Regions from separate parts of the Homo sapiens genome. Here region 1 is linked to region 2. Evidence: fine-mapped expression QTL. A gene starts in region 2. The other region holds a variant in brackets. All regions are shown on one strand. Distances are from middle to middle.

Region 1 (5,376 bases), 43 kb before region 2:
TTGAGCTTCAGGGAAGGGCCGCTCTGAAATATGTGAACCTCCAGTGGTACCATCCTATTGAACCAGATCCTATCCCTTCCATGCTTGCAAGTAGACCTATGATTAGTCTGAAACATTAAGCAGTTCAGCAGTTATGACTGGAGGGGAATGGTCTCTATTTACCACGGACTCCCCTGGCTGATCAGTCAGCAGCATTTATCTGCTTGTATTTCCCTGTAAATATTCAGAGCCACACCCCCAGTTCAGGGCTATTGGAGTGCCAAAATGGAGCATCTCAACCCCCTCCTTGCCCCACCCCATCCTGCAATTGCATAGGACAAATGCTCTGCCCGTCTTCTAATTTTCTTTTGGCATTTCGGAGTAGCTTCTCAAGGCAACATGACACGATGCTGTGCTGGCTGACATCTTGTCCCTAGTGAGTCTGCTTGCCGTGATGCCCTGCACATTAGACTGCCAGGTACCCCTAGACTTGTGGCCAGGTAGAAGGGTGGCCCTAGACCCATGTCCCCATGTTCTAAACACAACCCATGCCCAGAGAGGGAAAGATAGCATCAAAATGATGCAAACAGCATGACATATGAAGAAAGGCTGAGAAGTTTGGGGGAGCAGTGAGCCCAGTGTGAGTCAGCAGGAGATTTTTATCTGCACAGATAGGAAGGCAATGTCTAAAAGAAGGGCATGTATGTCCCACTGGGCCACCCTGGGAATACTGCCTCCCCAGCAGCATCACTCAGTAAAAGACACAGGGACAAACTTAGCATGTTCAGGAGAAGAAAGGGACCAGGACAGTGCAGATGAGCTACAGGCTAGTGGAGTGGCTGCGCCCCTTGTGCCAGGGCCAGAGGTGGGGCAGAGAGCCTGAAGGCAGCCTGTCCCATGCTCTGGTGTTATCTGCACAGCAGCCAGGTCGAGAAGGTGCCACACCACCCACTGCAGAGCAGCCTCTGCCAGACTGGCAGCCCTACTTACCTCGGCGGCGAAGTGCTGTCCGCTGACGGTGTGCTCAGAGCCGTGCGGGTCATTCGGGTTCCCCCAGTGCAGGTGCAGCTGCGTGGCACTGTAGCGAGACTGGAGGCCCTGGATGTGCATGTCCGAGGGCAGGTTCAGCTTCACTGCGGGGAGTGGAGGAGCAGCCTTCAGAGCCCCGGCCAGCTGTGCACTGCCAGAGAGCAGTCAGGTAGGCAATGCTCCCTCCACCCCTGCTGCCACCCCCTGGAGCCCAGAGAGAGGCAGGTGGATGGAGTGAGGTGCGGAGCAGAGATGCAGCCTAAAGGTCAGACACCTGGGCTCTTTCCCTGAGAATGTTCCCTTTTCCCCAAAGCAACTCCAGTGGCACCAGCACCTTCTTGGTTCACCTTGGAAAGTGATGCCAGAAACGCTAACACTAGACCAACGGATGGGTGTTTATTTACATATTGATGGATCAGACACCTTTAGTGAAGTACCTTCCAAGCTTTAGAATTATATAGCAACAGCAACGATAACTGCTATTTATGAAGCATTTACTTCACTCTGTATGCCAGACCCCAACGTACATAATCTCCAGTCTTCACGGTATCCATCAATATGTCCATTTCCAGATGGAAGCTCAAGGAGACTAAAATTCTCACCTAGATTCTCATGGCTCGTAAGCAGTCAAGCCAGAGTTCAAATCCAGGTTGGTCTGACTCCAAAGCCTGGGCACCCCCCGCCAAACTGTGTGGTTCCTTGAATCGTTTATGGTCCAGAATTCACTCCAGCTGCACAGCCAATGAACTACAGTGCTCAGGCCGGTCTCCTGCCCCATCCTGAGAGATGTGCTTCTTCTGGGAAGTGCGGCCCTGGCAGGATCCTCAGAGCCCAGAGCCTCCAGCATCCCCTGGAGAGAGTGCTCCTGGAATCTCTCAAAGACACCCCCGCCCCGCCCCACCCCTCCTCCTGGATGCTTCCACGGAACACCTCCCTGCCAGATGGAAAAGGACAGGCCTGGCAGCTGAGGGAGACTCAGACATACCCCTCAGGTCTCCAAGGCCTCTCCCTCACCTGAATGGCCATTGTTGGTCAGGAGAAACTGCTTGTTGGCAGACAGATTGTAGCCTTGGAACTCGAGGGGCGTGAGGCTGGCGTCATACTGGAGGATGTCACTGTGCAGGTCTATGGGGGACTGCAGCAGGCCCCCACACGACGGGTACTTCTTGGACCAGCTATTCTCCCCATCAGGACCTGGACACAGAGATCCATGCTCAAGATTTAGAGTTTCTCACAAAGGGATTTTCCTTATCTTCTAATTCTCTGTTCAATACAATTACTCCTTTTCTCCTCTTTTCTGAATCCCCGGAGGTAAATCTTCAAGGCTCAGAGTCTTGGCCTCCAGAATCAGGTCCAGCAACCACTCAGGACCACCTGCTCTTAAGTGATGTGGGGAAAGAAGGACTAGGGCTGCACAGGCCAGAGCCAGAAGGCCACCGAACTCTGCTTTATTTTGTACATTGTTCCTGTTTGACACACACGTCAAGACCTGTTGACTTTCAGCAATTCAGCATCTGCTTAGCCAGTACCTATTATGAGCCAGGAATTACTCTGGGTCTTGGGGCTGCCAGGTTGAATACAATAGAGCCCCTGCTCATCCAAGCTGGCATTCTAGCGGGGAAGAATTTAGCAAATCTGCGGGGCCACCCCAGGTGGGAAAAATTAGTGTCTTACTGACCACAGTGCCAAGTATTATCTTGG[T/C]GCAAAAATAATTGCGGTTTTTGCCATTCCTTTCAGGCAAAAACCACAACTGCTTTTGCACCAACCTAAATAGGTCTTTGTGGCTGCTGGCTTTGCAAGTATGACCTTCCTGAAGAGAAACCCCTGAGGACATTGACTCTTGATACCCACATTTAGAGTAACTATAGAACCCAATCTGATAGGGATGATTGACAAATGTTAAATAATTATAGGCCTGGAATCACAGAGTGAAGTGCAGAGTTTAAGCTGGAAAAAAATATGACCACACTATAAACTAATTATTACAATATAATTGACACACTATCAGTGAAGAGGAACAGACTTTAAAAAAAGAAATTCCTCCAGGGCTCAAGCTTCTTGCTAACTACCAGATAGCAGTTCCTCCCCTGGAAATGAAAATAAACATGCTATGTGCAGATGAACTTTCCTACTCCCACAGGGAAAAAGTCTTTAAAGAATGTAAATCTATGTTTAAAAGATTATCTCCACGGTAATTAAACAGACTTTCAGGCCAAGGTTTCTCCAGAAAAGCAAAGAATTGGCATGTCATGGCTCGTTAGGGTAGACCCAGGGTGTCCTGTGGGCTCTATCAGAGCTGGGGATCAAGCTTTGCCATCTGGGGGTCCGTTCATCAGTATTTCAACACAAGGAAGGTGGGTAAATAGAGAAAAGGGGAAAGGAACACCACCTCTTCTGGGAATTCTTCTGTAGACCCCTGCACTGTTTCACAAGGGTGTAAATGTTATATTGGCCCCACAGAATCCCAACCCCCTACATCGTGCTCTCTAACTAGGGGACCGTATCTGAGAGTGGGAAGAATCCGAAGTGATACTTGGTACCCAGGTTCATTTCAAATGCTATGAGGCGTTGGTCCCAGGCTTAGTTAGTTCTTACTTCTAGGTCCGGACACACACATCGGAACCCTACTGATTTTTCAGGCTGTCAACCTTAGGCTATGCATTTTCAGAAATGTTACAGCATGACGGAATTGCAGAATCTCCAGTCCAACCTTTCACTGGACACCAGTCTTCTCACTTGGGCATGGCAGAGTCTCCGCTGAGCTCTACTATTCTTATTTTCAAGGCCTCAAAATAACTCAACTACACCAAGATGGTGACTAGGGAAGAGGGAGGCTGGAGGATATCAAAGCAGGCACTCCAGGGCCAAACTGGAGTAAGACAATTATTCAGCTGGGGGCCAAACCGAATGCTTTAGGGGCAGCGGGGAGCAGAATGAAGCAACCGTGAGGCCTCATGTAGAACCCCAGGGTCAGGAAGAGACACAGCACAGGGTAAGACTCCCTAAGTGAGGCTGCCAGCCTTTTCTGTGCTCACAATACTGCCTGGGCCCACAGCCAGCAGGGCGGAAGCTGCCAGCCAGGCATGAATGCAAAAAACTCAGGAAGTAAAGAGATGCATCATTGAGAAGCTTTCTCTTTGCACACATGACTAAAGGGAACTGGATTAGAAGGGTTTTCTTTTCCCACAGTGGAGGTTCAAAAAGGTTTCATCAAGAGGGCATTTTACTGATAGCTAAACGAGAGCCTCGTGAAGATAGGGACCCCTCATCTTCGTCTCTGTGAACCCATATTATAAGTAGGGTCACGTGCCCCCATGGGCATTTAGGAAACATTTTCCCAAAGAGTGAAAAAGAACAGAGGGCTTGGGAAAATGTGACTTGGGGAATGTTTCCTTTTTCTCTTGCTCTAAATACGCTTTATTGGAAGTTAGGACCAAATAAGGTATTTGGGGGGCAGGAAAGACTAAGGATATTAAAGGCAGTAGAGTTGGTGTTGGCAAAACCTGTCTTGGAAAGAGAAGCAGCTATGTTGGACCAGGGGAGTCCAGAGAATGAGATTCCAGCATCAGCTGTCCCAACACTTCAGTGGGTTATGTTCCCTGCTGGAGCCTCCATTGCCCTTCGTGCAAATGGTGGGGGTGGTGGGCGTAGTGGTGGGGATGGGATGTGTGTGGAAGCTATGTTCTGGAAGGTTCCTTCTGGCTCTTAAGCTCTGATATTTATTAAGAATACTAGGACTAAGCACCTTCTCCATCTGTCAGGCAAATTTGAATGAGTCAGAAAGGTTGCTCATGTCAAGGCAGCTACTGGGCATGTGACAAGGTGCCCAGGGGAACCAGCTTCGGGAATGAGGGCACAGGGCACCGGTGCTCCAGGACTGGCTGGGATCAGACAGCCATCTGCATCAGGAACCTGCCCTGGTCCTGGCTGCCATCCACAGCGGAGTTCGTCCTTGGGCACCAGTCACAGGTCTGTAGGTCAGCAAGGTCAAGAAAGCCTTGTCTTCGCCTCCTCCTCCTCCTCCTCATTGTTATTATATTGTAGTAGCTTTGATCCTTATAACTCTATAACCTTACGGGGTAAGCAAGGCAGAATTGCACCATTTTATGGGTGAAAAATAGAGATTTAAGAGATTTGCCGGAAGTTTGACTTTGGCTAAGTAACAGTTACTTTGCTTGGGTCACAGGACTTATGTGTCCTTCAGTATTTATCCAGGAGATTTTGTGCACCTGGAATTTCCTGGCTTCCCCACGCTGTCCTTGAAGACAAGGACCACGGCTCATCCATCGCTGCACTTCCCACAGTGCCTGGCACAGAGTGGGCCCTCACATGTTTACTAAGCTGAACTCTCAACACCTGTTTCATGCT
Region 2 (5,376 bases):
TTTTTTTTTTTTTTTTTGGACAGTCTTCTCTGTCGCCCAGGCTGCAGTGCAGTGGTGTGATCTCTGCTCACTGCAACCTCCGCCTCCCAGGTTGAAGTGATTCTCCTACCTCAGCCTCCTGAGTAGCTGGGACTACAGGCGTGTGCCACCACACCTGACTAATTTTTGTATTTTTGGTAGAGATGGGGTTTTACTATGTTGGCCAGGCTGGTCTTGAACTCCTGGCCTGAAGTGATCTGCCTACCTCAGCCTCTGAAAGTGCTGGGATTACAAGCATGAGCCACCATGCCTGGCCTACGGTTCTCCAATTTTCTAGATGCTGTGATCGTTTGTTTGTTGATCAGAGGCACGTGTACCGATTGTAGCAATCAAATAATGCTCAGCATGGGATATGGCTGTGTCTGAGGGACCAAGGGACCCTGTATCATACTCTGTGATCAGTGGATAGAACATTTGCCAAAAGAAGAGCTCAGAGCTTTGAATCGACGTAGGTCTCAAGCAAAGGAAGGAGAATGTGAGCCATACCAAATAGCTCTTCTGTTACATTAACGAGGTTTGCTTTGACTTAGGAAGGCCAGACAAGACAGAGGCAGAGAGGGAAGGGGGAGGAAGGGAGAAGAGGGAGGAAGGAGGGAAGAAGGAAGGAAAAGTCCACATTGTATCCTTTGACTGGGCAGTGGCTGAGGGAACCTCTAGGCCAAGACTCACATAGACCCATTGATCTGGGTACCAATGTCTGTGTTTTAAAATATAGCCAGTTTTGTAGTTTTATTCACATCTGCGTCTTCCCTTTCACGGTGATGGCTTGGAGGCGTAACCCCTGTGTGAACCCTCGCTGCCCTGCTCAGTTTCAGGCGGGATCAGTTGGAGGACAGTGTGACCTGGAGGAAAGAATGCCAGGCTTCTGACTCTGCCAGGAGCCAGCAGTGGAATGTCAGCAAGTCCCTTGCCGTGTTTCTGCTTCTGTTTTCTAATCTGTAAGTCGAAATAAGAATGTCTAACTCCACACAGGGTTGGCAGTGGGATGAGGCCGTATATGTGAGAGCACTTTGGGAAGAAATAAATAACGACATTTGTCGTACATAAGATGTCACTCCTAAGAGTGGACTTCACAAGAAAGGAAGTGTGTTTGATCTCAGCTTTGGTTTACTAATCTAAGAAAATAAAAACTGGATTCCAACAAGGGATTGTAAATTCTCACTGCATACCTGACACCAGTTACCATGATGACTCTTGTCTGGTTACTTGATCCCTGAGTCCTTCAGCTCCTACTTCTGTTGAGTGGGGAATAACAGCTCTTCACTGAGACTTTTATAAAGCACTCTGTGTGATTAATTTAAACATCATAATAATTCAAATTTCTATGCATGGGGAAACTTAGCATTTTACGTGAAGTAAACCTTGGTGCAATAGTGTCACCTCTTTCCAGGTGCATTATTCACAATGTCATGGTTAGCTGACACTCAGACATTTAGGAGATATAGTTAGACTGTAATAGCTTAAGGTTTCTCACAGCCTTCTCATTTTTCACACCTGCTGGGGAACCCACTCTCCTCTAGCCTCAGGGATTTGGTCCATATCCTTCCTGTTCTTCTTGTTCTCAGTCTGAAGCACTGTCCTCTCCTACCCGTCTTCTAAACCATAGTGTATTCACAGGCCACATTCCAGCAAGCTCACAAGTGCCAGCCTGACGTGAGTAGTGCTAATATCAAATCTGACAACTTCCGTTCGGAGTCAGGCAGGCAGAATGGTATAGGGGGCAGAGCTTTGGCATCATACGAACCTGGGTTTTGAAACTCCACCATTCACCACCCTGTGTGACTCTGGGCCAGTCATTCAACCTCTTTGAATCTTGATTTCTTCCTGGTTAAAGGGATGAGAGTCCAGCCAGGCACGGTGGCTCATGCCTGTAATCCCAGCACTTTGGGAAGCTGAGGCGGGCGGATCACCTGAGGTCAGGAGTTCGAGACCAGCATGGCCAACATGGTGAAACCCCATCTCTACTAAAAATGCAAAAATTAGCCAGGCGTGGTGGCGCATGCCTGTAATCCCAGCTACTCAGAAAGTTGAGATGGGAGAATTGCTTAAACCCGGGAGGTGTAGGCTGCAGTGAGCTGAGATCACACCATTGCACTCCAAGCTGGGCAACAAGAGTGAAACTCCATCTCAAAAAAAAAAAAAGAAGAAGAGAAAGAGAAAAATAGAGATGAGGGTCCTAGAGTAAGTATACCCCAAAGGGAGAAAGGGAGGAATACATTTAATCAGCTAGGCATATGAAGAACTTAGCACGGCGGCACATAATGAGTACTATGTCAATGATCTTTGTCCTCTGTGGAAACATCCTTACTGGATGAAGTGGGGCTGCTTCTCCCAAAGTTCCAACCCTGGTTTGGGCAACTCCATCAACTTCCATGAACCCTCAGGGAAGAACGAGTAGAGATTTCCAGATATCCCTTTCCCCCACACATTGGCCTCTCATAGAATGTAACTTTGGTCATAACAAACCCAGTCTTATTACTGAAATAAGTTGAAGCCTTCTAAACAAGTAGGCTTAGAACCTCTTTTCCACAGGAAATGCCTGATCACTGGAATTTTGTAGCTAGAAGGTATTCCTGAGCTCAGAGATGCCACATACTATTAAAATTATTGGTAATTTCCTCTTGCTTGGGCACTCAAGCTCTCTACCATTGCAGGAATTCATGAGCTGACTCCTTTATTTCAGGTGCTTCCAAACAAAACTGACAAGCAACACCCAGTTGCCTACATTTTAGTTTGCATTCATCTCCACTGGGTGTAGGGTACTAGGAGCATGCAGCACAATTGTGCTTCTCTTCCAGCTGGAGTCTGTAGACTGAGCCAGGCCACCTTGTTTAGGCTCTAGTGCCTGACAAAGAGCTCAGTGGGCTGGAAGCCTAGTGCAGTTAACACTGATGGCTTTGTAGCTTGGACAGGTGAAAGTCAGCAAGCTTCCCAGTAGACCAATTGATCTGAGTTGCCTCTCTGGCCAGAAGCCAGCCCTGGCAGGGATCCAACTTCCTCTCAAGCACTGAGAAAGGGCTCAGGTGTATCTGGTGGCCGGCAGAGCAGGTAGTCAGCCAAGGCTTCATAGTTCTCACCCACGGCAATTCAGCTAGCAAACTAGAGACACTTCCCCAAGAAGACACAGCGTGGCAAGACTGCTGAGACGCATAAAGAAATCTTAGCTGGTGAGTTACTTCTTTATGCCTGCCCCACTTGAAATAAGAGTTTGGGGCTCCTTTTACTGTGATTAAAACTGGATTATTTATGCTAGCATCTCTGTTTTTTGACACAGCTATGCAAAACTTTTTGATCTTACATGTCTCTGTTTTCTTTACTGTCCAGGATTTTGTGGAAAGTAGAAATGATAGCAAGATATAGTTGGAGTTCTTAAAGAATGTTCAAAGAATCAGAAAGTTCAAACCCCAGAAACTTGGCTTCTCTTTAGAAATTCTGTTTCCCCTGAGGACAGTGGAGAAGGAAAAATACCTCCATAACTCCATTTTTATGATAGGGATTATGCCACTTAATCCCAGTGAATATTTGTAAAATTATTTTGAGACGTTTAGGAACGACATCATAGTCCATAATTACAAAGTGTATTGGTGCTTGTAACTGTAGAGATGTTTGTTTTTAGTGGGGGAATCAGACCTGTCTGTGATAAGAAGGCTCCCTGGGTTCATATCACCCCTGAGATATTCCAGTTCGTAGGAAAGAAGTCAATTCAGAGGCAGTGAATGAGAGAAGTCCCATCATAATAGGTCTTATATAACTAGCCGTCAGCAGAAGGGAACTGCTAAAAACTGGGGGAAAGGGCACAGAAAAGTTATGGAAGGAGCAGTGCTAACTTGCTGCAATTGTCCCAACAAGAAGGAAGGTGCAGGGAAATGAAAGATAACTCTGTGGCCTCTTCCAGGGCGATGAGCAGCATAGTGCTTTTGTGAAGATTCCACCCAGAGTCTGATGCTGGGCAAAGCATGTCTGGCCAAGACTGGAAACAGAACTTTTTTTTTTTTTTTTTTGAGTCTGAGTCTGGCTCTGTCACCCAGGCTGGAGTGTAGTGGCACGATCTCAGCTCACTGCAACCTCTGCCTCCCAGGTTCAACTGATTCTCATGCCTCAGCCTCCCAAGTAGCTAGGATTACAGGTGCTTGCCATCACGCCCAGCTAATTTTTGTATTTTTAGTAGAGATGGGGATTTTGCCATGTTGGCCTGGCTGGCCTCAAATTCTAGCCTCGAACTCCTGGCCCCCAGCGATCCACCTGCCTCGGCCTCCCAAAGTGTTGGGATTACAGGCATGAGCCACTGCACTCAGCCTGGAAACATAACTTTAAACATTGAACTGAAACAGGGAAACATCTCAGCCAAGTGATTTTTATAAAGAGTTATTAACAGGGAACTTTTAAAAGAAAAAAAAAAGTGATAATCCAACCTACCAGATAATGACTCTTCATTCTTACATGTTCCCTTCTTCTTGTCCATGTCAGCAAAGAAATATACCTGGTTACTATGGAGAAAAGATACCCTATTGTATATACTACTTTTTTAAAAACTAACATTGGATTATAAACACTTTCCAACATTTCTACATAGTCTTAATTATTTTAACATTGATAAAATCTTAAGACAAGTTCCAAGAAGTCATGAAGCCCGGAAAGATTAGTGATCTAAAACAGGGAGTCAAATTTCTTAAGTGACTTCCTCTAGAAGTTCAGGGAACTCCTAGAAGAGCAGCAAAGCTCCAACTTGAAGGATCCAGATACATATGACAATAGGTAGACTGTTGGTAAGTCAGTGGCTTGATGGCTTAACGGGGACAATAACAGGAGGCGAGTATACCCACAGGGCCAGACATGCTGGGGAAGGGAGCCCACTAGAATGGGTCCAAGCCCATAGCCAAGAGCAGAAGCTGCCATAGCGGCGGTCAAGGAGGCTTCATTCTAGATCCACATGCTGAACAGTGCTTCATCAGCAGACTCTCTGAAGAAGCTTCTGCACCTTGGAGCTCCCAAAAGAGATCAAAAGCCATGATCAAGACCAAGGGAAAGGTGGGGGAGTTGTGGGAGCTGGACACAAAGGACATTTAACTCCTTGTCCCACTTCCAGCAGCTGCCAACCATCCTCCTCCCACTCACTCCTGGCTCTCTTTTGCTCTCTTCTCTTTTTTTTTTTTTTAAGACAGGATCTCACTCTGTTACCCAGGGTAGAGTGCAGTGGCATGATCATACCTCACCGCAGCCTTGATCTCCTGAGCTCAAGAGATCTCCTACCTCAGCCTCTGAAAGTGCTGGGATTACAGGTATAAGCCACTGTGCCCAGCCTTCTCAATTTTATTTACTTCTGTCCCTTTAACTTAC

Direction of the effects. Positions count from the first base shown, and alleles are read on the strand shown. Sizes are in standard deviations (SD) of each study's normalised expression.
In carriers of allele T in region 1, the expression in minor salivary gland of the gene that starts at base 3,175 in region 2 tends to be higher than with C alone (small effect, 0.40 SD a copy in GTEx).

What was found.
Region 1: its variant is fine-mapped to the expression of LINC02568 in minor salivary gland (GTEx, PIP 0.91).

Annotation. Positions count from the first base shown.
Region 1 is chr15:63,344,508-63,349,883 of GRCh38, forward strand. It overlaps CA12 (carbonic anhydrase 12), which reads right to left. Exons shown (of 11, transcript NM_001218.5): 3 at 2,023-2,202; 4 at 970-1,112. Among named protein-coding and RNA genes, the nearest start is that of CA12, 35 kb to the right of the region's middle. RefSeq lists a silencer at 903-1,090, an enhancer at 1,846-2,015 and a cis regulatory region at 1,931. The variant T/C (reference allele first, on the strand shown) is at 2,710.
Region 2 is chr15:63,387,056-63,392,431 of GRCh38, forward strand. It overlaps LINC02568 (long intergenic non-protein coding RNA 2568), which reads left to right and starts at 3,175. Exons shown (of 7, transcript NR_120375.1): 1 at 3,175-3,206.